Linked DNA regions of Homo sapiens. The protein of the gene in region 1 interacts with the protein of each later gene in a pairwise test. Each region holds a gene or a part of one and is shown in the gene's direction. Other genes may lie near its edges.

The links.
Region 2: the proteins of RNF32 (region 1) and RAB3D interact in a two-hybrid assay, tested with the Homo sapiens proteins (one study listed by BioGRID).
Region 3: the proteins of RNF32 (region 1) and OGA interact in a two-hybrid assay, tested with the Homo sapiens proteins (one study listed by BioGRID and IntAct).

The regions. Positions count from the first base shown.
Region 1 is NC_000007.14:156,657,024-156,664,945, forward strand, and holds part of RNF32 (RING finger protein 32), read left to right. Parts: exon of another isoform or gene 1-11; intron 12-431; exon of another isoform or gene 432-517; coding exon 518-550; exon of another isoform or gene 551-668; intron 669-852; exon of another isoform or gene 853-1,104; coding exon 1,105-1,229; exon of another isoform or gene 1,230-1,438; coding exon 1,439-1,547; exon of another isoform or gene 1,548-1,839; coding exon of another isoform or gene 1,840-1,863; exon of another isoform or gene 1,864-3,327; intron 3,328-7,922. UniProt on the Homo sapiens protein: May play a role in sperm formation.
Region 2 is NC_000019.10:11,329,274-11,337,195, reverse strand, and holds part of RAB3D (ras-related protein Rab-3D), read left to right. Parts: coding exon 1-24; intron 25-1,412; coding exon 1,413-1,531; intron 1,532-1,624; coding exon 1,625-1,749; intron 1,750-7,922. UniProt on the Homo sapiens protein: The small GTPases Rab are key regulators of intracellular membrane trafficking, from the formation of transport vesicles to their fusion with membranes.
Region 3 is NC_000010.11:101,800,694-101,808,615, reverse strand, and holds part of OGA (protein O-GlcNAcase), read left to right. Parts: intron 1-714; coding exon 715-886; intron 887-2,472; coding exon 2,473-2,571; intron 2,572-4,596; coding exon 4,597-4,881; intron 4,882-7,922.

The DNA.
Region 1 (7,922 bases):
GCACACTTTCCCTGCATTTAAAAAAGAAAAAAGACTCCATGATTTGTTGCTATTTAAATTTAAGACTGTCAGAATTATATCTCAGTAGAGCTATGATTTCACAAAAATTGGGGGGCATAACTGAGCTGAACAAAGACCTAAATGGTATTTACTTAGCGTTTCCCTGGCCCCACTGGACAGGCCCCCCTCCTCACCCCTCCAGTTTGCAGTCACTGCCCGCATCTAAGGGAAACTTTCATTTTGTCATTGTTTCGCTCTTAAGTATACACTCATTTTAATAGTTAAATATCAAACTTCATGTGTTTATTTGATATTTCAGATCATGAATTTTTGTTATTTAGAGTATATACTTGTGCTGTGCTAAACAAACAATAAATAGTATAAATATCAAAGTTATTAATTTGCTTTTTTAAAGAAATAATACAGCTTACCTTCTAAGCATTCAGGATTTTAACTGTTGGATACATGCTGCTTCTCTTTTGTAAACTTCAACGTCGTTCTGTTTCCTCATGAACAGGTGCTGCTTTCATGCTCCCATGTGTTCCACAAAGTAAGTCCACCCCTCACGCCTGCCCAGGTGCTGCACATGTCGCTCTCACAGTGCAGAGAAACCATAGTCATTTTCAAGGCTCCTAAGGAGAGCCATTTATTTTATTCATCACCACCATCTATAGTTAAAGAAACATGACTGTAGGCTGCAGTACAATTCATCCTATTTTGAAAATCATGAGTTTTGTGACAAAAGAACCACAAATGTTTATGTAACAGATTGTTGTCAGTAATGCATGTCAAAGTGACAGCTAAATTCACATGATCGATCTGCATGTGGCCCCATACACACGCGTGACTCACCTTTGTGCTAGTGGATTTCAGAAGTTTTTGATGTCTCTGCATGTATATTCTTGTAAGAAATCATTTTTGGAACAGGTTTTGTGAGGAAGGTGGTAGCACCTGATGAAGCCTCCTCACTTTATAACCTAAATTGGGCTAAGTCTCATAGTTATGGGAGAAAAGAACACTATAATTAGAACACTAACATTGGAAGTAAAAACGTTGTTTATAAGTAATTACTTGTAAAATTTTAAGTGAAATGTTTTTCTTCAGGCATGTCTTCAGGCTTTTGAAAAGTTCACAAATAAGAAAACCTGTCCTCTCTGTAGAAAGAACCAGTATCAAACCCGAGTGATACACGATGGGGCCCGCCTGTTCAGAATCAAGTGTGTGACCAGGTGAGGACGCCAGGCCCGTTTGGCGCTAAGCAGACACAGATCAGGCTATGACAACTAACTTGTTTTTTGAATAGTGGGATTTTATCTCTCTTCTTGGCCACCATAATTTCCCCAGGGCCTTGTACAGCACAGGGCTTATAACAACTACTGAAGTATTGGTTGACATAGAGTCATCATAAATTAGTCATTTTCAAATATCTGTGTTTTAGAATCCAAGCCTACTGGAGAGGATGTGTTGTTAGAAAGTGGTACAGAAACCTGAGGAAAACAGTACCTCCCACAGATGCCAAGTTAAGAAAAAAATTCTTTGAAAAAAAGGTAGGTAAAGATCATTATGTTCTCCAGATATGGTCTCCGTGCGGGTGGTTCACTTGGGGTCAGGAAGGCTAACAGAGGTGGTAAAACTTTGAGACTTACTTCACTTTGAGGGCTTTTTAAAAATGGGTGAGATGCTGCTAAAAATCCTGTTTAACTTTAGTTGGCTTTCCAACCTAGATGTTCAAATACTTCTAGACTTTCTTTTCTAGTTAAATCATAAAATTAGGTTAAATCAAAGCAACTTCTGTTTGGCCATTTTGTGCTAATTGTTTAAATAAACTTATCTCTTCAGACACAAGACTGGAAACCAGCTTAATTTTTCCCATCTCCTGGGCTATATGTAAATGAAGACATCTGCTGCACATCTCATAGTAATGAAAATAGAAGCTGCCTATAAAAATAAAGCCCCCACATGCTACCATTGTATTGAGTACCTCGTGGGGTCATCACAATGAGCTTTAGAGCTAACTTCCATGTCTACCCTTCCTCTTAACCACTATTTATGCTTTAGTTTTACTTTTGGGGGACTTATTTAACAATTTCCCATTCCTTGTCCCCATATGAAAAGGACAGTCCTACCCCATCAGCCTGTGGCTTCAGGCAAACAGCAGCAGCTCCGAGGCTGTCATATGAAAGCCATCACTTCTTCCTGGCAGTGTTGGCCTGAGAAGAGCTGTAGCATTTATAATGGCCCAGCACACAGTAGGTGCTGGAAATTCTGTATTTATTATCACTATTAACTCCTTTCCTAGAATATGGAGATGAGTTACTGTGTGTTCTGTTCCTGAGAGCAGTGTCTCTGATCTTCAGAGATCATTCGTCTCGGGTGTTCATTCTCAATTTGGTAAAGGACCGCCATGCACGATTGCGTCATCCTTCCTTTACATTCTTTCCAGTTTTTTATCTTCAGTCGTTGACAGTCAGTTGTGTTCTCTGGGCTACTCTTAGTAATTTCTAATATGTCATAGTAGGTTGTCTCTTAAATCAGAAGTGATTTTTTGTCACCTCTTATACAATTTTAATTACAGATTTGATAGTCATTTTACCTTATATATATAAATATTTTTCATGTGCACACATCATTTTATAAGAACTCTTGAAGATAAAGGCCCACTGAAAGTGTTGGTGGTCTCAGCCCATTGAACTGGACGAGAACTGGCCCAGGTTGCTGGAAACAAGTGAAGCAACCATTACAATGTGCCTTGTGTTATCTTGTAAAGTAGCCAGTGAAGGTTAAGTTTCAGCGTTCAGTGCTCAGGTGTTCAAATGCTGCAGCCTTCAGCTTCATGGAAAAAGGAAACGAAAAATAACAAAAAGCAAGTGACCAAGAGCAGTCGGGGCAGGGAGACCTGATCAAACAAGTTCCTCAGTTTCTAATTCAGTGTCTCCCACAGAGAGATGGAACTTTACAAGGCAGATTCATAGCTCTGTCCCACTGGACGTTGGGTCCGCTGCCCTGTGGCCATCCCACCTCCCCACAAATACTGTTTTTTGTTTTATCCTTGGTTCATCCCAACTGCTGCCTCCTCGTCCTGAGCCCTCATCGCTCGGAACGCCCCGCTCTGATCCCCGTGTCTGCTTTTCTGAGCACACTCTTGCCCGCCCCCGCATGTCCTGCCCGTTCCTACTGGTTCCCTCTGCCTTGCTTAAAATGTGCCAGTTTTTCAAAGCCTAGCTGAAGCTTTCTTCCAATTTCTTTGGTCTTCTCTAAACCTCTATTGTATGTTTAAACAACACCATCTAAGAGATCAAGAAGAACAGAAGTATGAATGCTATTCTAGCTTGTATATTACAAATGTGGTTTTTCCTTTGGGGCTTTTAAGATGATCTCAGATGATTTCAATAGCAAATTCACTTAAGCTGAATATCTGTGAAGAAACTGATAAGTAAAACTGATTTTTTATTTTTTGCAGGGGTGGTAGTTGAGAACAAACTGTATAAGTTGTTTTTTATTTTTATTTAGAGACAGGGTTTCGTTATATTGCCCAGGCTGGCCTCAAATTCCTGGGCTGAAGCGAACCTCCCACCTCAGCCTCCCAGTTAGCTGGGATTATAGGCAAGAGCCATAGGCTAGGGCAGTGGCTTTCAGACTTTTCCTCAACCACAATAAGAAATATCTTCTAAGCAATGTTGACAGAAAAACCAAACTCTGTAAAGTATTTTAAAGAAGTTGACTCTGACTGATACGAGTGACTGCAGGCCAGGAAACCCACTCTCAAGGAGTCCTGAGAAAGTGCACCCCGGGCGGTTGGATTACGGTTTGGTTTCATACATTTTAGGGAGGCAGGAGTTACAGGCAAAGACATCAGTCAGTACATGGAAGTTATACATTGGTTTGGCCAGAAAGGCGTGATATCTTGAAGTGGGGGTTTACAGATTGTAGGTGGATTCAGAGATTCTTTATTTGCAGTTGGTTAAAGGAGTAGGGCTCTATCTAAATACTGGAGTCAGCAGAAGGGAATCTCTAAGTTGAGGATGCTGCGCAGCAAGACTGATGGCCTGCGGCATGACTGTCCCTTGCCGGGCATGGCCTTAGGTCTTGTTTGTACTTTGGTTTCTTACTGCCTCAGACTGCCGTCAGCCTTATCACTTTTAAAGGAATACTGGTCACTTCAGCTTAAACTCCAGCAAGGAGTGGGCATAAGGGGCATCTCACCTTTCTTCCCATCGTGGCCAGAAATTCCATTGTTAAGGTTTTCCTAGGGCCCCCTTGGCCAAGAGGGGGTTCGTTCTGTTGCTGGGGGCCTTAGGATTTTTTTTTTTTTTTGAGACGGAGTCTCGCTCAGCTGCCCAGGCTGGAGTGCAGTGGCACGATCTTGGCTCACTGCAACCATCGTTTCCCGAGTTCAAGCAATTCTCCTATCTCAACCTCTTGAGTAGCTGGGATTACAGGCACCCGCCATCATGCCCAGCTAATTTTTGTATTTTTTAGTAGACACAGGGATTCCCCATGTTGGCCAGGCAGGTCCTGAACTCCCAGCTTCAGGTGATCTGCCTGCCTTGGCCTCCCAAAGTGCTGGGATTACAGGTGAGAGCCACCATGGCCTGGCCAGGATTTTATTTTTAGCTTACAGCAATGACCCACCACATGTATACAGTTAACAGAAACGTAACTTTCGCAAAGCAAAATCTGCTTTCACTGCAGGCACCACACTGTGTTCATTTTTATTCCACTTCGTTTCCAAAGTGCTGGGCCTACTACATTAATGTTATGGGTCACTGATGGGTTGTAGATATCAGCAGTCTGCATTATCAATAACTGCCACCTTAAACATAATACAAGTGACCGTGTTATCTGCTGAACTGTAATCTTACCTCATTCAAGTTTCAAGTGTGGGGGTGGGGAGGAACAGATGTATACATATACGCACACACACTCAGATCATAGTGAGGTTATACTCATAATTTGTTACATGAATAGGGATCCTATCATGTAACTCTTGCTCACTTAACTCATTTGGCCATAAACACTTGAAATCTGTAAACTCAGATCTCATGTTAAATAAATGAAGATTGAACTTACTGTAAAATAGTGTATTAGCAGTAGGTAGTAGGTGCCTATATGGGTCCATGCCCTATGTGCTTGTATGCCTGTATGGGTAGAACTCAACAGCTGTCCTTTATAATAAAGACCACTTCTTAATCATTTACCAAATGACCTCACCATTTGATGCTTTTTTTCTACCTTTCCAACTTAATAAACTCATTCTGTGAGCGATGGGAATCCTCTGAGAAATGTTAATCTACAATTTTAGAATGCCCTGCATATTTAATGGAATCCAAAAGGTTACTGAACTAGGTTATTGAATTTCACATTACCCAGGTGTGATGGTTAATTTATGTGTCAACTTGACTGGGCTAAGGGATGCTCAGGTTATCTGGTTAAACATTATTGCTGGGTGTGCCTGTGGGTATTTCCAGATGAGCTGAGCATTTGAATCAGTGGACTCAGTAAAGTGAATTGCGTGTGTACACAGGCACAGTCTCACTCTCTTGCGTGTGCTTTCTCTCTGTCTCTGCCTGACTGCTTGACCTGGGACGTTGGTTTTCTGTAGATACACAGAAAGGGAGGTGTACCCATATAAATAGAAATCATTTTAAAATTACAAAATTGTTGTATACAACTTTATGCAATAGAAGTGAAAATATAATTGAAATTACTTCCTGTAAAAATAGCAAACGTGGAAAGAAATTTAAAGTATGAAATGACTGAAAAAAATTATATGAGCATCTCCGTTTTTACTGAAAAGATATTAAATAAAATTTAACAGCCATTCTTTTTTTTTTTTTTTTTTGAGGCACAGTCTCGCTCTGTCACCCAGGCTGGAGTGCAGTGGCGCGATCTCGGCACACTGCAACCTCCGCCTCCCAGGTTCAGGCCATTCTCCTGCCTCAGCCTCCCAAGTAGCTGGGACTACAGGCGCCCACCACCATGCCCGGCTAATTGTAGAGATGAGGTTTCACCATGTTAGCCAGGATGGTCTCGATCTCCTGATCTCGTGATCCACCAGCCTCGGCCTCCCAAAGTGCTGGGATTACAGGCGTGAGCCACTGCACCCGGCCTTAACAGCCATTCTTAATAATGAAAGACACTAGAACTAGAATGAAATTTCCTTGTCACATTAAAAACTATGTGTCAAATACTAAAAACACATTGTTTTAGAGAGTAAAAAACCATAAAGAAAACTAGGTTACTTACTGTCATCACACTTGAGCCAATCCTTGCCAATAACACATGAAAACAAAATATATGTGTGTGCACATATGTGTATATGTTATGCATATTATATAAATCCACACATGTATATTACAATTTTACATTATATTTATATTAAAATAAGCCAAACAAGGAATGTACCACACTGATAAGAAAAAATTTTTTCTGATGGAATAAAAGGCTTGAATAAAATGACAGACATTTTACACTGGAATGAGTAAAAATGTCCACTTACTTTATATAAATTTAATGTAGTTTCTAACTCCCAAAGGAGTAGGATTGGCTGTGCATTTAGGACTTTACAGGTTAACTCTAAAGTTTATCTAAAGAGGTATGAAGAGCTAATAATTTTTTTAAAAGACAGATTGATGAGATAGAACAGCCTTGTTAGATATCAAAATATATAAATTTGGCAACTAAGATTCTTGGGGAATAATAGACAAACAATGAAACAGTAGAAAGTCACACATCTCAGCATACAGGAAATTTTAGTGTACTAAAGAAGGTATTTCAGACCAGTGGAGAAAAAAATTATTTGAGAAAAATCAATTGGGAAATTGAGTTCATTCATCTGAAGGGGGTTAAAGAACACTGCTTTATGCGTTACTGCCAAGAACATTCCACACGGATTACACTCTCAAATACATTTTAATGGATACATGAAATTAATGGAGTCAAATAGCTTCCTGGGTGCCTGCTCTCTGCCTGTGCTTTGTTAGTCAGGGGAGATAACGAGGGAACAGACAAAACACCACAATCCTAGCAGAACGTGTGCAGCTCAGAGCGGGGAGAGAGCCTGGATCTCAGATTCTGCTCCAGTGCACACGGCACATTGCGTGATTGCCACCGTGGCTTTTACAACGTTCTGAAGGCTATAGAAAAACATTGCAAGGGCCGGGCGCGGTGGCTCACGCCTGTAATCCCAGCACTTTGGGAGGCTGAGGCGGGGGCATCACGTGAGGTCGGGAGTTCGAGACCAGCCTGACCAACATGGAGAAACCCCTTCTCTACTAAAAATACAATATTAGCCGGGCGTGGTGGCGCACGCCTGTAATCCCAGCTACTCAGGAGGCTGAGGCAGGAGAATAGCTTGCACCCGGGAGGCAGAGGTTGCAGTGAGCCAAGATCGTGCCATTGCACTCCAGCCTGGGCGACAAGAGTCAAACTCCATCCAAAAAAAAAAGAAAGAAAAAGAAAAACACTGCAAGAGCACACTAGGTGGTAATTTGTCCTGGTTGACAAGGCAAAATGATCATCTTGATTTACATGTTTGGTACAAGTGGAGAATTTCCTTGTATATATTATATATTAATGTTTAGGGGTTGCATCTATTTTATTGTTCTTTTTTAAAGATGTAATCAATGAGTAGAATATTTTACAGCTCAAAACTGGAAGAGCTTAATAATAAATGTGAGACAAATAATACACGGACCCTATCTTAGTAAAGAAAGTCATCATCATCCTCAGATGCCTTTAGAAAAGACTCTTTTCATCTAGCATAATAGTATACTATTAACAAGTTTATCTAGTTTAATCTGGGCATAACATGTGAAAATGTCATTTTTCCAATGATAGAAACAGAATTGTATTGTTTTCACCAAGAAACAAACATATGTTTCAGTAAAAAAGAGAAAATTGAACTGCTTTCCTTTAAGTAC
Region 2 (7,922 bases), on another chromosome or scaffold:
AAGAGGATCAAGCTGCAGATCTGGGTAGGCTGGGAGGCTGGCTGTGGGTTGGGGGTGGGGTCCCTCCAGGAAAGTTCATTGGAGGGTTCTTTTTTTTTTTTTGAGACGGAGTCTCACTCTGTTGCCCAGGCTGGAGGGCAGTGGCGGGATCTCGGCTCACTGCAACCTCCATCTCCTGGGTTCAAGCGATTCTCCTGCCTCGACCTTTTTTTTTTTTTTTTCTCTCGAGACAGAGTCTTGCTCTGTCGCCCAGGCTGGAGCACAATGGCACAATGTTGGCTCACTGCAACCTCCGTCTCCTGGGTTCAAGCAATTCTTCTGCCTCAGTCTCCCGAGTAGCTGGGATTACAGGTGCACGCCACCACACCCGGCTAATTTTTTATACTTTTAATAGAGATGGGGTTTCACCATGTTGGCCAGGCTGGTCTCGAACTCCTGACCTCGTGATCCGCCCACCTCGGCCTCCCAAAGCGCTGGGATTACAGGCATGAGCCACTGTAATACTGTGCCTGGCGGGAAACAGTATTATTCCTGGGGGTCTGATTGCGGAGATGATACTAACCTAAGACATGTTTGAAGTACTTGTGACACTAGCGTGGTGGCTTATGCCTGTAATCCCAACACTTTGGGAGGCTGAGGTGGAGCATCACTTGAGCCCAGCGGTTCCAGACCAGCCTGGACAACATAGCGAGATCTCATCTCTAAAAAAAACTTTAAACATTAGCCCAGCATGGTAGCTCCCGCCTGTAGTCTCAGCTATTCAGGAGGCTGAGGCAAGAGGATTGCTTGAGCCCAGGAGTTCGAGGCTGCAGTGAGCTATGATTGCACCGCTGCATTCCATCATGGGTGACAGGGCAAGACCCCATCTATTAAAAAAAGAAAGAAAGAAAAAAGAAAGGTCCCAGGTGCTGGTGACCAACAGGGAAGAGTTTTGGGTACCATCTTAGAGGGGACCCTGGGACCCCCATTGGACCGACCTGGTCTGCAGAGTCACACCTAGCTCCCTCTCCCAACTTAGCCGCTGGTAACAATCATCGTGGTAGCAAGAGTACCAAGGTGTCCTGTCAGGATGGTACCATCTGGCCCAGTTGGTTCTTAGAGACAAGGTCAAAGGGGCTCATAAGTCTGTGAGAGGCCACTGACCCCTGAGACTTGGAACCCCTCAAGGGCAAGCCCAAGTCTCTCCCTCATCAGACTGGGGAGATCCCTTGGTAATGAATCCATGCCTCCCCCATCAGACTGGGGTTGTGAGGGCAGGATCTGTGTATTCTCCATCAGACCAGAGGTTGTACAAGCAAGTCTGTGTCTCCCCCGTAAGGCTGGGGCTATGAGTACAGGGCAGTGCCCCTCTAAGACAGGGGTGGACTGGGAAACAGGTAGTTCCCAGCCAACTGCCACTGCCATTTGTCCAGGACACAGCGGGCCAGGAGCGCTACCGCACCATCACCACGGCCTACTACCGGGGAGCCATGGGCTTCCTGCTCATGTATGACATCGCCAATCAGGAATCCTTTGCCGCTGTGCAGGACTGGTGAGTGCTTGCTGATCATGGACCCCTGATCTTTGCCCTCTCCTCTGACCCCTAACCCCCCCGGCTCATGGCTCACCACTGGTAACTCTGCAGGGCCACGCAAATCAAGACCTACTCCTGGGACAACGCCCAGGTCATCCTGGTGGGGAACAAGTGTGACCTGGAGGACGAACGTGTTGTGCCTGCTGAGGATGGCCGGAGGCTCGCCGACGACCTTGGTTAGTGCCCAGCCTGGGCCACAGGCCCTGGTCTCCCAGAACCAAACCCTCATCCCCATCCTCTGATTCAGGGTCCAACCCAGTCACTGATCCTTTGAGGATCTGCCCAGGAAGATACCCATGTGTATGCCACATGTCCCGTCTAATTGCAGGGGATCCACGCGCAGGAACTCCCACTGCCCCACTGCCTATCCCCTGGGAACCCAGCAAAACCATTTCTGGAAATTGATCCTAGAGATATCCTCACCCATGTGGGATATGGTGTGTGGAGTGTAGTAGTAGTATTAGTAGGAGTGAAACCTACAGATCCCCCCCAGGTGTCTCACAGTTGGAGAACCAAGTGGACATAAAGTATATTCACATGGTGGAATACTATGCAGCCATGGAAAAGGATGGGGATGTTCTTTATTTTTTTATTTTTTATTTTTTTGAGACGGAGTCTCGCTCTGTCGCCCAGGCTGAAGTGCAGTGGCGCGATCTCGGCTCACTGCAAGCTCCGCTTCCCAGGTTTATTTTATTTTTTTGAGTTGGAGTCTCACTCTGTCACCCAGACTGGAGTGCAGTGGTGCCGTATTGGCTCACTGCAGCCTCCACCTCCCAGGTTCAAGCAATTCTCCTGCTTCAGCCTCCCAAGTAGCTGGTACTACTGGCGCGTGCCACATGCCCAGCTAATTTTTTATATTTTTAGTAAAGATGGGGTTTCACCATGTTAGCCAGGATGGTCTCCATCTCCTGACCTCGTGATCTGCCCGCCTTGGCCTCCCAAAGTGCTGGGATTACAAGCGTGAGGCACCATGCCTGGCCTTTTTTTTTAATTTTGCGTGGAGATAGGGTCTCGCTATGTTTCCCAGGCTGGCCTCGAACTCCTGACCTTAAGTGATCCTCCCTCCTCAGCCTCCCAAAGTGCTAGGATTGCAGGCATGAGCCACCACACCAGCCCAAGGGGATGTTCTTTATGGTTTGTTTTTGTTTTTGTTTGAGATGGAGTCTCCCTCTGTTGCCCAGGCTAGAGTGCAGTGGTGCGATCTTGGCTCACTGCAACCTCTACCTCCTGCATTCAAGTGATTCTCCTTCCTCAGCCTCCTGAGTATCCAGGATTACAGGTGTGCGCAGCATGCCTGACTCATTTTTGTATTTTCAGTAGAGATGGGGTTTTGCCATGTTGGCCAGGCTGGTCTTGAACCCCTGACAGGTGATCCACCTGCCTCAGCCTCCCGAAGTGTTGGGATTACAGGCGTGAGCCACCGTGCCTGGCTGTTTTGTTCTAGCAAAATAGTGGATACGACTGCTTTCTTTAGTCCAGGAGTCAGCAAACCTTTTCTTAAAGGGCCAGATAGTAAATATTTTTGGCCATACAGTCTCTATGGCAACTACCCAACTCTGCATGACAGCAGCCACAGACAATGCATAAATGAATGGGTGTGACTGTTTGCCAATAAAACTTTATTTGTGGCCGGGCGTGGTGGCTCATGCCTGAAATCCCAGCACTTTGGGAGGCTGAGACAGGCAGATCACCTGAGGCCAGGAGTTCTAGACCAGCCTGGCCAACATGGCAAAACCCCGTCTCTACTAAAAATGCACAAAAATTAGCCGGGCATGGTGACAGACGCCTGTAATCCCAGCTACTTGGGAGGCTGAGGCAGAAGAATCACTTGAACCTGAGAGGTGGAGGCTGCAGTGAGCCGATATCACGCCACTGCACTCCAGCCTGGGCAATGGGGGGAGACTCTGTCTCAAAAGAAAAAAAAAAAAAGGAAAGAAAGAAACTGATGCTTGCAATCAGTTTTTAACCCCAGCTTTCCCATAAGCCCCATCCAAGCCAGCACCCTATGTGCAAAATTCAGAAGGCACAGGAAGAGACTAAGGCAATAACCCACTCCCCACCTGCAGTTCTGGTCTCCCAGCTTCTCTGATTCTTGTATCTCTTTCCAGAAATATGCTGAGCACCCACAGGCATTGACAACACATTGGCTACTTTTTTGTTTTACACAGATGTTCCCTACTGTATATACCCTTTCCTGCACTTTGAACTTTTCTACTAAATAATATATCCTAGAAATATTTCTCTGCCGGGCGCAGTGGCTCACGCTTGTAATCCCAGCACTTTGGGAGGCCGAAGAGGGCGGATCATGAGGTCAGGAGATCAAGAACATCCTGGCTAACACTGTGAAACTCCATCTCTACTAAAAATACAAAAAAATTAGCCAGGCGTGGTGGTGGGCGCCGGTAGTCCCAGCTTCTCGGGAGGCTGAGGCAAGAGAATGGTGTGAACCCGGGAGGCGGAACTTGCAGTGAGCCAAGATCACGCCACTACACTCCAGCCTGGGTAGAAGAGCAGGACTCTTTCTCAAAAAAAAAAAAAAAAAGAAATATTTCTCCATCAGCCCCAGAGCTGGCTCATTCTTTTGCATGGCTGTGTACTATTCCATTTCGTGTTTCCTTAACCTTTTCCTCTGTTGACAGCCATGGAGATTATTTCTAGCCTTTTCCTCTGACAAATGCAGCTGCAGCAGTCATTTTTACATATATTTCTTTGGACACATGAGGCAAGAAATCTGCCAGCTTGATTCACAGATGTTCTTAACACTTTTTTTTTTTGAGATGGAGTCACTGCACCTGGTTGGTTTTTATAGTCCCGGCCTACACTTTTTTAAAAAAATAACTTTGGCCAGGAATGGTGGCATGTGCTTGTAATCCCAGCTACTCTGGAGACTGAATTAGGAGGATTGCTTCAGGCCAAGAATTTGAGACCAGCTTGGGCAATATAGCGAGACCCTGTCTCAAAAAAGGAAGAAAATAATAACTTTTTGTGATAAAAATGTTCAAATACTCTCAGCACATTGGGAGGGCAAGGTGGGTAGATCGCTGAAGCCCAGGACTTTGAGACCAGCCTGGTCAACATGGTAAACCCTGTCTCTACAAAAAAATGCAAAAATTAGCTAAGCATGGTGGCTCACACCTATAGTCTCAGCTACTCAGGAGGCTGAGGTGGGAGGATCGCTTGAGCCTGGGAGGCAGAGGTTGCATTGAGCCAAGATTGCACCACTGTATGCCAGCCTGGGTGACAGAGTGAGACCTTGTCTCAAAAAACAATGAAATAAAATGAGAAATGTTCGGCCAGGCGTGGTGGCTCACGCCTGTAATCCCAGCACTTTGGGAGGCCGAGGCAGGCGGATCACCTGAGGTCAGGAGTTTGAGACCAACCTGACCAACATGGTGAAACCTCATCTCTACTAAAAATACAAAATTAGCCGGTCGTGGTGGCGCATGCCTGTAATTCCGGCTACTCAGGAGGCTGAGGGAGGAGAATCACTTGAACCCAGGAGGCGGAGGTTGTGTGAGCTGAGATCGCACCATTGCACTCCGGCCTGGGTAAGAAGAGTGAAACTCCATCTAAGAAAAGTTCAAATACATTCACAAGTAGAAAGGAATGTATAATAGACTTTGATAAAACATTATTCAGCTTAATTAGGTCTCAACATTTTTTCAATCTTGAATCATCTATTCCCCCAAAATACTTTTCCTTTTTTTCCTAGAGCATTGAGAGCAAACCCTTGACATCGAAACCTTTTGTCTGTAAACACTTCACTATGCAACTCCAGCTGTTTTGTTGTCGTCGTCGTTTTTTAAATAATAGAGACAGAGCCTCACTCTTTCACCCAGGCTGGAGTACAGTGGTGTGATCCCACCACTTTAGGAGGCTGAGGAGGGAGGATTGCTTGAGCCCAGGGGTTAGAGACCAGCCTGGGCAACATAGTGAGACCCCAACTCTACAAAATAAGTTTAAAGCTCCCTGTAGCCTCAGACACCTGGGCTCAAGTGATTCTGCTGCCTCAGCCTTTCAAGTAGCTGGGACTACTAGTATAAGCCAGCACACTGGCTAATTTTTTATTTTTATTTTTTGTAGAGATGAGGTCTCACTATATTGCCCAGGCTGGTCTTGAACTCCTGGGCTCAAGCAGTCGGCCTGCCTCAGCCTCCCAAAGTGCTGGGATTACAGGCATGAGCCACGGCACCTGGTTGGTTTTTACATTTTTAAGTGGTTGAAAAAAAATAATATGACATGGGAAATTTATATGAAATTCAAATTTGTATCTATAAATGAAGTTTTTCTGAGACACAGCTATACCCTTTTAAAAGAATTTTTTTTTTACACGGAGTCTTGCTCTTGTCGCCCAGGCTGGAGTGCAATGGCGTGATTTCGGCTCATTGCCACCTCCGCCTCCCCAGTTCAAGTGATTCTCTTGCCTCAGCCTCCTGAGTAGCTGGGATTACAGGCACCCACCACCACGGGGCCTGGCTAATTTTTGTATCTTTAGTAGAGATGGGGTTTCACTATGTTAGCCAGGCTGGTCTGGAATTCCTGACCTCAGGTGATCCACCCGCCTCAACCTCCCAACCATTTATTTTTTAAATTTTTTTTTTTTTTTTGAGGCAAGGTCTCTCTCTGGTGCTCAGGCTGGAGTGCAGTGGCACGATCATAACTCAAAGCAGCCTCCAACTCCTGGGCTCAAGTGATCCTCCCACCTCAGCCTCCCAAGTAGCTGGGATGCCAGGTGTACTCCACCACACCTGCCTAATTAAAAAAAAATTTTTTTGCCGGGCGCAGTGGCTCATGCCTGTAATCCCAGCACTTTGGGAGGCCGAGGCGGGTGGATCACAAGGTCAGAAGCTTGAGACCACCCTGGCCAACATGGTGAAACCCCGTCTCTACTAAAAATACAAAAAAATTAGCCGGGTGTGGTGGTACACACCTGTAATCCCAGCTACTCAGGAGGCTGAGGCAGGAGAATTGCTTGAACCTGGGAGGCAGAGGTTGCAGTGAGCCGAGATCGTGCCACTGCACTCCAGCCTGGGCAAGAGAGCGAGACTCCGTCTCAAAAAAGAAAAAAATTTTAAGAGATAGGTCTTGCCATGTTGTCTGGGCTGATCTTGAACTCCTGGGCTTAAGCAGTCCTCCCACCTTGGCCTCCCAAAGTGCTGGGATCACAGGAGTGAACTCACACCCGTGCTCAGTTGATGCCTATTTGTTGATGCATTGTCTATGGTTGCTATTTTTATGGTAATCACACGTCTGTGATTACAGGCTGTCTCAATACAGAAAAGGGTATAAACAGTGCTTCAAGCGTGAAATTGAGTAATTGAGACAGAGACCATATGACCCAGAAAGCCTAAAATATTTACGATCTGGCCTTTTACAGAGGAGGTTTGCTGACCTCTAAGCCATAACCAGTCCCTTTCCCCTTTTATTCTTGCCATTGCTTTGTTGGAGAAACTGGATCTCTGTTCTGTGGGGCAGGGCCCTGGATCCCCAGTTAGCCTGGAAGTGGTGAAATCAGTTAACGCCCGCGATGGGCTGGAATACTTGGAGGTGCTTTCCACACCTACTTGCGGATTATATCTGGGGTCTCGGGGTAAAGGGGGATTCTCACTTTCTGTTATTATGTTTAAAATATTGGAGTACAGGCCAGGTTCGGTGGCTCACGCCTGTAATCCTAGCACTTTGGGAGGCTGAAGTGGGCAGATCACTTGATGTCAGGAGTTCGAGACCAGCCTGGCCAACATGGTAAAACCCTGTCTCTACCAAAAATACAAAAATTAGCTGGGTGTGGTGGCACGTGCCTGTAATCCCAGCTACTTGGAAAGCTGAGGTATGAGAACCATTTGAACCCGGGAGGCGGAGGTTGCAATGAGCCAAGATCGCGCCATTGCGTTCCAGCCTGGGTGATGGAGTGAGCCTGTATCTCACACACACACAAAAAGAAGATTGGCATACAAAGCAGGACACAGAATTTGATCCCAATTTTTTTTTCTTTTCTTTTGTTTTATTTTTTTTTTTGAGATGGAGTTTCGCTCTTGTTGCCCAGGCTGGAGTGCAGTGGCACAATCTTGGCTCGCTGCAACCTCCGCCTCCCAGGTTCAAGCAATTCTCCTGCCTCAGCCTCCCGAACAGCTGGGATTACAGGCATGTGCCACCACGCCTGGCTACTTTTGTATTTTTAGTAGAGATGGGGTTTCACCATGTTGGTCAGGCTGGTATCAAACTCCTGACCTCAGGTGATCCGCTGCCTCGGCCTCCCAAACTGCTGGGATTACAGGTGTGAGCCACCACGCCTGGCCTGATTCCAATTTTGTAGGAAAAAAAGCCAGACACACATACATGTGCACACACA
Region 3 (7,922 bases), on another chromosome or scaffold:
GGGTGGCATTAAAATGTCTGGTAAAAAATTTAAGGCAGTTGAAATTTTCATGAATGAAGTTATTTTACTATTTGATAAAATTCTATTCTTTCTGATTCATACCTGGTTAGGTTTATCTGCAAAGGGATCAGTGTGCCTTTTGGGACTAGGACACAGCCTGGCTTTTTCATGTCTTAAGGTTACTTACTCATGTTTCTGTATTTTTCTGACTTTGTTGGGTCTTCTACAATCAGCAGCAGCCCATGAGGACTAGGAGGCTAGGCCACTTTGTTGGATCATATTGTCATATAAGTTGAGTATCCCTAATTCAGAAATCTGAAATGTTCCAAAATATGAAACTCTTTGAGCTCCATAAAATTCAAAGGAAATGCTCATTGGAGCATTTCAGATTTTGGATTTTCAGGTTAGGGATGCTGAATATAATACAGATATTCCAAAATCCAGGAAAAAACAAAAATGAAAATCCAAAACATTTTTGGTCCCAAGCATTTCAGATAAGGAATACTCAGCCTGTAGTGCATTCAAACCCAAATGAGAAATGGGTCCCAAAACTGTTTAACTTACGATTTTTTAATTGAAAATGTAAAAACAATAAATCTGTCTTTGAACATTCTAGTAAGGAAAATACTGGATTTTAAGTATAACTGTTAACGCTGTAATGTTTGGAATTCTTAATTTTTTTACTCTTGATTCTTTTTTTTTTTTTTCTCCTAGGTTTCTCAGTTTGGGTGCAGATCATTTGCTTTGCTTTTTGATGATATAGACCATAATATGTGTGCAGCAGACAAAGAGGTATTCAGTTCTTTTGCTCATGCCCAAGTCTCCATCACAAATGAAATCTATCAGTACCTAGGAGAGCCAGAAACTTTCCTCTTCTGTCCCACAGGTATTGTATATAATGGCTTTACATTTAACTAGTCTTCTTGGAATATATAACTTATAAAGGACCATGGGCCCCATTCTCTCTCCACTTCCCTCCTCCTTTGGTGTGTAAAAGTAGGAATCTTTTTTTAGAAGACATTTTTCAAGATCCTAAATTGGAGAAATTTTAGGAACTAATAAATGACAACTGACTAGGCAAAAGATTTTTATGTATTTTTAAGTACTGGAAGTATATGAACATTACATTGTCAATATTAAAAGAGGGATAGTATTGAAATGAAAACTGGAGAAAAACCAAATTACATTGCTTTTACCTTAGTCACTTCTCATTTCCTCCTACTTGTCCCCTTTTTCTGCCCATGCATATCTGTCCCTTTTTGCACTCCTCCCACTCCCATCTGGGCTCTTATTTCAAGTAGTCAGCATAGAAAGCTTAACAGTTTTTCCCGTTTTCCTTTCTTTTTGCCCCTCTGGTTTCTTTCATTGAAAATATTTTAGTCTCTTAGTTGCTTCTCAAAATTCAACTTACAGGAAGTTTTCCCCACACTTCCTTGTTCAGGAAGAATTTTAGATTAAATTATTTAACTTTCTTTGTGTGTATTGTGAGCCGAGAACCTTATTTTAGTTGAGTACTACATTAGTACCCAGAAGTTTTAAGATTATACTGGGAATTAATTAGCTGCAAGTTACAGTTTAAGTTGCAGTTGAGTACTAATAGCCATTGGTATATGCCTTTAAAAAAATTTTTTTTAAATTTTACTTTTAAGTTTGTATTATTTATTTAGAGACCGGGCTATAAAACTGGCTAATTTTTATATTTTTGGTAGAGACGGGGTTTCGCCATATTGCCCAGGCTAGTGTCGAACTCTTGGGCTCAAGTGATCCACCCGCTTCAGCCTCCCAAAATGCTGGGATTGCAGGTGTGAGCCACTGTGCCCAGCTGCCATTGGCATATTCTTGTATTAGTTCTATTATGATATTATCAATTCATTCTGTTTGGCGTTTAATTGTAACTGAGAAAAGTAGGCAATTCAGAATTCTGTAGAAAATGCTGCAGTTCTTGTTTTTTTAGTAAACTTGTATTTCTAGTAACTGTAGTATCGTAAGAATTGATCTGTACTACTGTTGGAGGAAAAATACCAGATTTTATGAATTTCTTAAATGAACTGCCCACTTTAGTTCCTTGTAGGAGGCCTTTTATCATTTAGATGAAAATAATTTAGAATTGGCAGACATTTTTTCCACATTCAAAAACCCATGGGCCTTTTGGGAGGCCAAGGCGGGCGGATTGCCTGAGCTCAGGAGTTTGCGACCAACCTGGGCAGCATGGTGAAACCCCATCTCTACTAAAATACAAAAAAAAATTAGCCGGGCGTGGCGGCGTGCGCCTGTAGTCCCAGCTGCTTGGGAGGCTGAGGCAGGAGAATTGCTTGAGCCCAGGAGGCAGAGGTTGCAGTGAGCCGAGATCGTGCCACTGCACTCTAGCCTGGGCATCAAGAGTGAGACTCCGTCTCAAAGAAAACAAACAAACAAAGAGAAAACCCATGAGCATTTTAATTCTGACTTTTTTACTTTTCTCCCTACATTTAGAATACTGTGGCACTTTCTGTTATCCAAATGTGTCTCAGTCTCCATATTTAAGGACTGTGGGTGAAAAGCTTCTACCTGGAATTGAAGTGCTTTGGACAGGTAAGTCTTTTAAGATTTATACAGTCAAAGTTGAATTAAGTAGGACTTGCAGAAATTGCTTGTTCTTGTTAATTGAATACTTTTTTTTTTGAGACGGAGTCTCACTCTGTCGCCCAGGATGGAGTCCAGTGGCATGATCTCGGCTCACTGCACGCTCCGCCTCCCAGGTTCACACCATTCTCCTGCCTCAGCCTCCCGAGTAGCTGGGACTACAGGCACCCGCCACCACGCCTGGCTAATTTTTTGTATTTTTAGTAGAGACAGGGTTTCACCATGTTAGCCAGGATGGTCTCGATCTCCTGACCTCGTGATCCACCCGCCTTGGCCTCCCAAAGTGCTGGGATTACAGGCGTGAGCCACCACGCCTGGCCTTTTTTTTTTTTTTTTTTGAGACAGAGCATTGCTCTTGTTGCCCAGGCTGGAGTGCAGTGGCACAATCTCAGCTCCCTGCAAACTCTGCCTCCCGGGTTCAAGCAATTCTCCTGACTCAGCCTCCCAAGTAGCTGGGATTACAGGCACACGCCACCACACCCAGCTAATTTTTGTATTTCTAGTAGAGACGGGGTTTCTCCATGTTAGCCAGGCTGGTCTCAAACTCCCGACCTCAGGTGATCTGCCCACTTCGGCCTCCCAAAGTGCTGGGATTACACATGTGACCCACTGCACCTGGCCCAGAGAACTTGTTAAAATACGCTTTCTTTTACAAAGTTTACATATTCTCTTAATATGAAAAAACATCTATCATGGTTGGGGAGCCTGAGTGGGGAGCCTGAGGTGGAAGCCCCCAGGAGTTCAAGACCAGCTTAGACAACATAGAGAGACTGTAGAAAAAATAAAAAACTTAGCCAGGTGGGCTGGTGCACACCTGTAGTCCCAGCTACTTAGGGGGCTGAGGTGGAAGGATCACTTGAGCCCGGGAGGTAGAGGCTGCAGTGAGCTGTGATCATGCCACTGCACTCCAGCCTGAGCAACAGAATGAGACCCTGTCTCAAAAAAAATTCAGTTAATAAATAATAAAGATTTATAGGGAATTGGGCTAAAAGGTATTGATCCCATCCTTAAGCAGCGTTAGGAAACTCTTCTATTTTATAAAACGAAAAAAATAAAGCTCAGTAAAAGACATGTTGTGTTTTCAAAAGAAAAATTGTGGCTGGGTGCATTGGTTCGTGCCTGTAATCCCAGTGCTGTGGGAGGCTTGAGTTGAGGTAGGAGGATCGCTTGAGGCCAGGAGTTTAAGATTAGCCTGGGCAACATAGCAAGCCCTTATCTGTACAAAAAAATTTTAAATTACTGTGACATGGTGGGGCACACCTGTAGTCCCAGCTACTTGGGAGGCTGAGGTGAGAGGATTGCTTGAGCTCAGGAGCTCAAGGCTGCAGTGAGCCATGATTACTCCATTGCACTTCAGCCTGGGTAACAGAGGAGACCCTGTCTCAGAAAAAGAAACGTTGTTATAAAATGTACATGTAAGGGGCCAGGCGCAGTGGCTCACGCCTGTAATCCCAGCACTTTGGGAGGCCGAGGCAGGCGGATCACAGGGTGAGGAGATCGAGACCATCCTGGCTAACACAGTGAAACCCCATCTCTACTAAAAAATACAAAAAATTAGCCAGGCGTGGTGGAGGGCGCCTGTAGTCCCAGCTACTCAGGAGGCTGAAGCAGGAGAATGGTGTGAATCCAGGAGGCGGAGCTTACAGTGAGCCGAGATCACACCACTGTACTCCAGCCTGGGCGACACAGCGAGACTCTGTCTCAAAAAAAAAAAAAAAAAAGTACACGTAAGGAAAACAATAAAAAGTTATATATGCAGTATATTTTAAAGAACCATGATTCTTTTTTTTAAATATATTTTTTAATTTAAAATAAAAAGATAGGGTCTCGCTGTGTTGCCCAGGCTGGTCCGAACTCCTGGGCTCAAATGATCTGCCCACCTCTGCCTCCCAGAGTGCTGGGATTACAGTTATGAGCCAATGCGTCTAGCCAAGAACCATGATTCTTTTAACGAACGGTTGTCGTTATTTCTAGGTCCCAAAGTTGTTTCTAAAGAAATTCCAGTAGAGTCCATCGAAGAGGTTTCTAAGATTATTAAGAGAGCTCCAGTAATCTGGGATAACATTCATGCTAATGATTATGATCAGAAGAGACTGTTTCTGGGCCCGTACAAAGGAAGATCCACAGAACTCATCCCACGGTTAAAAGGAGTCCTCACTAATCCAAATTGTGAATTTGAAGCCAACTACGTTGCTATCCACACCCTTGCCACCTGGTACAAATCAAACATGAATGGAGTGAGAAAAGATGTAGTGATGAGTAAGTAGCCTGTACTTGATCTTTCACCTTGGGAGGAGAGCTGGGGTTAACTAGAGCCAGTGGAAAGTATGCATTCCTTTGTCATCACAACTTAAACAGTTTTATTTATTTTTTTAAAAACGTATTTTGTTTTACTAAGGAGGAAACAAAACCAAGTGGTTTTATTATGGTATGTTGTTTCATTCTGTTGATGAAGATGTATATGATAGAAGAAAGGTTGAGTGTCTTTGGACAAGTCACTTAACCTCTTTGCCTTAGTTTTTTTTTTTTTGTTTTTTTTTTTTTTAGTATGATTCAGAAGCAGCGTGGTGGCTCGCTTATAATCCCAGGAAATGCACTCCAGCCTGGACAACAGATGAAAATCCTATGAAATAAATAAAAATAAAATATGGTTCAGTCTTTGAAGTCTGAGTACTAGAGGAGACAGTCTTTTAAGTGTTTCCATTATCTCTAGAATCATTCGGATAAAATGTATTTTCAGGCAATTTTATTGAAAAGGATATTTTAGATAACTAGATACTCTTGAGTCACTTAGATCATTTAGATTCAGCTTACATTTATCTTTTATGGAACATACTCTTTTTTTTTTTTTTTGAGATGGAGTTTTGCTCCATCGCCCAGGCTGGAGTGCAGTGGCGCAATCTCAGCTCGCTGCAACCTCTGCTTCCCAGGTTCAAGCGATTCTCCAGCCTCAGCCTCCCGAGTAGCTGGGATTGCAGGCACACCCGGCTTTTTTTTTTTTTTTTTTTTTTTTTTAAAGTAGAGACAGGGTTTCACCATCTTGGCCAGACTGGTCTCGAACTCCTGACCTTAGGTGATCCACCTGCCTCGGCCTCCCAGAGTGCTGGGATTACAGGCATGAGCCACCCTGCCTGGCCGAATGGAATACAGTCTTATTTTAGACATTGGCTTACTAATTTTTAATTTATGAAAAATCTCTAATTAATAGAGTTCTAAGTAAGGTGCTTGATAATTATTTACATTTAAATAATCTGTCATGGGGCAGATGCATGTTCATGGGCACTGAGGGGGCAAAGAATAAAGTAGTTTTTTTTTTTTCTTTTTGAGATGGAGTCTTGCTCTTGTTGCCCAGGCTGGAGTGCAGTGGCGCAATCTCAGCTCCCTGCAACCTCCGCCTCCCAGGTTCAAGTGATTCTCCTGTCTCAGCCTCCCGAGTAGCTGGGATTACAGGCATGCGCCACCATGCCTGGCTAATTTTGTATTTTTAGTAGAGACGGGGTTTCTCCATGTCAGGCTGGTCTTGAACTCCTGACCTCAGGTGATCCGCCCTCCTGGGCTTCCCAAAGTGCTGGGATTACAGGCGTGAGCCATCGCGCCCAGCCATTCCTACTTTTGAGAAACAGTCTAGTGTTGGGTAAGGCTTATAGGCAATTGTACTATAGTGTGATAAGTGTTGTAATAGTTTAATTTATAAAGTGCTGTGTGAACACGGGAGAGAGTGATTATTTTTGCTAAGAGATTTCACAGACTTTTAAGCTGGATCAAAGTATGAGGAGAGTTTGCTGGGCGTTAAAGGTTTGTGGGCTGGAGGTTAAAAACACTGAACACTGAAAATTTTTTTTTTTCTTTGAGACAGAGCCTCGCTCTGTTGCCCAGGCTGGAGTGCAGTGGCGCGATCTTGGCTCATTGCAACCTCTGCCTCCCTGGTTCAAGCGAGTCTCTGGCCTCAGCCTCCTGAGTAGCTGGGATTACTGGCGCACACCACCCCATCTGGCTGATTTTTATAGTTTTAGTAGAGACAGGGTTTCACCATGTTGGTCAGGCTGGTCTCGAACTCCTGACCTGGTGATCTGCCTGCCTCTGCCTCCCAGAGTTCTGGGATTACAGGCGTGAGCCACTGTGCCCAGCCTGAACACTGAACTTTTGAAGTTCCCTGAATTTTGGCCCATTTTGGCTACTGAAGTGTCATGATAGTATGTAGTAATATTAATAGTTGTCATCTGTTTCTCAATTCCATACCTCTGCTTTGAATTGTTTATTGAATTAATGTCTCCCTTTTGTTTGGCTCAGTCATTGTCATCCTCCTCCCCTCAATAAAAAACAAATTGGGAATATAATTTAAATGCTGTCAGCGTACATGGCACTTAACTCCTACATCTTTTAAGGCACAGCAAGGAACATACTAAGGGTGGCAGACACTATCCAAACCTGGGACATACGTAGGAAATATTAAGGAAAGCTAAGAATAGAGAGTTTTTAAGTACAAAATCAAAAAATTCAGACTTAATTTTCTCTACCACTATCCTGGCTCAGAGCTTTGTTGCCTTATGTGTGCTAATTTGTGGGTCTCTGTCGATTATCTCTTTTTTTTTTTTTTTTCTGAGACGGAGTCTTGCTCTTGTTGCTCAGGCTGGAGTGCAATGGCCCGATCTCAGCTCACTGCAACCTTTGACACCTGGGTTCAAGCAGTTCTCCTGCCTCAGCCTCCCGAGTAGCTGGGATTACAGGTGCCTGCCACCACGTCTGGCTAATTTTTTGTATTTTTAGTAGAGATGGGGTTTTACCATGTTGGCCAGGCTAGTCTCAAACTGCAGACCTCAGGTGATTTGCCCGCCTCAGCCTCCCAAAGTGCTGAGATTACAGGCATGAGCCACCATGCCTGGCCTCTTCTTTTTCCCTCAGCGCCTTTATTAATGAAGTTACAGTCGGTTGTAGTGGCTCACGCTTGTAATCTCAGCACTTTGGGAGGCCCAGGTGGGCAGATCACAAGGTCGAGTTCGAGACCAGTCTGGCCAACATGGTGAAACCCCATCTTCACGAATAATAGAAAAATTAGCTGGGCATGGTGGCATGCGCCTGTAGTCCCAGCTACTGGGGAGGCTCAGGTGGGAGAATTGCTTGAACCTGTGAGGCGGAGGTTGTAGTGAGCCAAGATCCTGCCACTGCACTCCAGCCTGGGTGATGGGGTGAGACTCCATCTCAAAAAAAAAAAAAAAAAAAAAGAAGTTACAAGGCCCTGAAGGCTATGCAATGTTTTCTTCATACGAAAAGCATGGTACTTTTGACCTTGACTTCCCAAC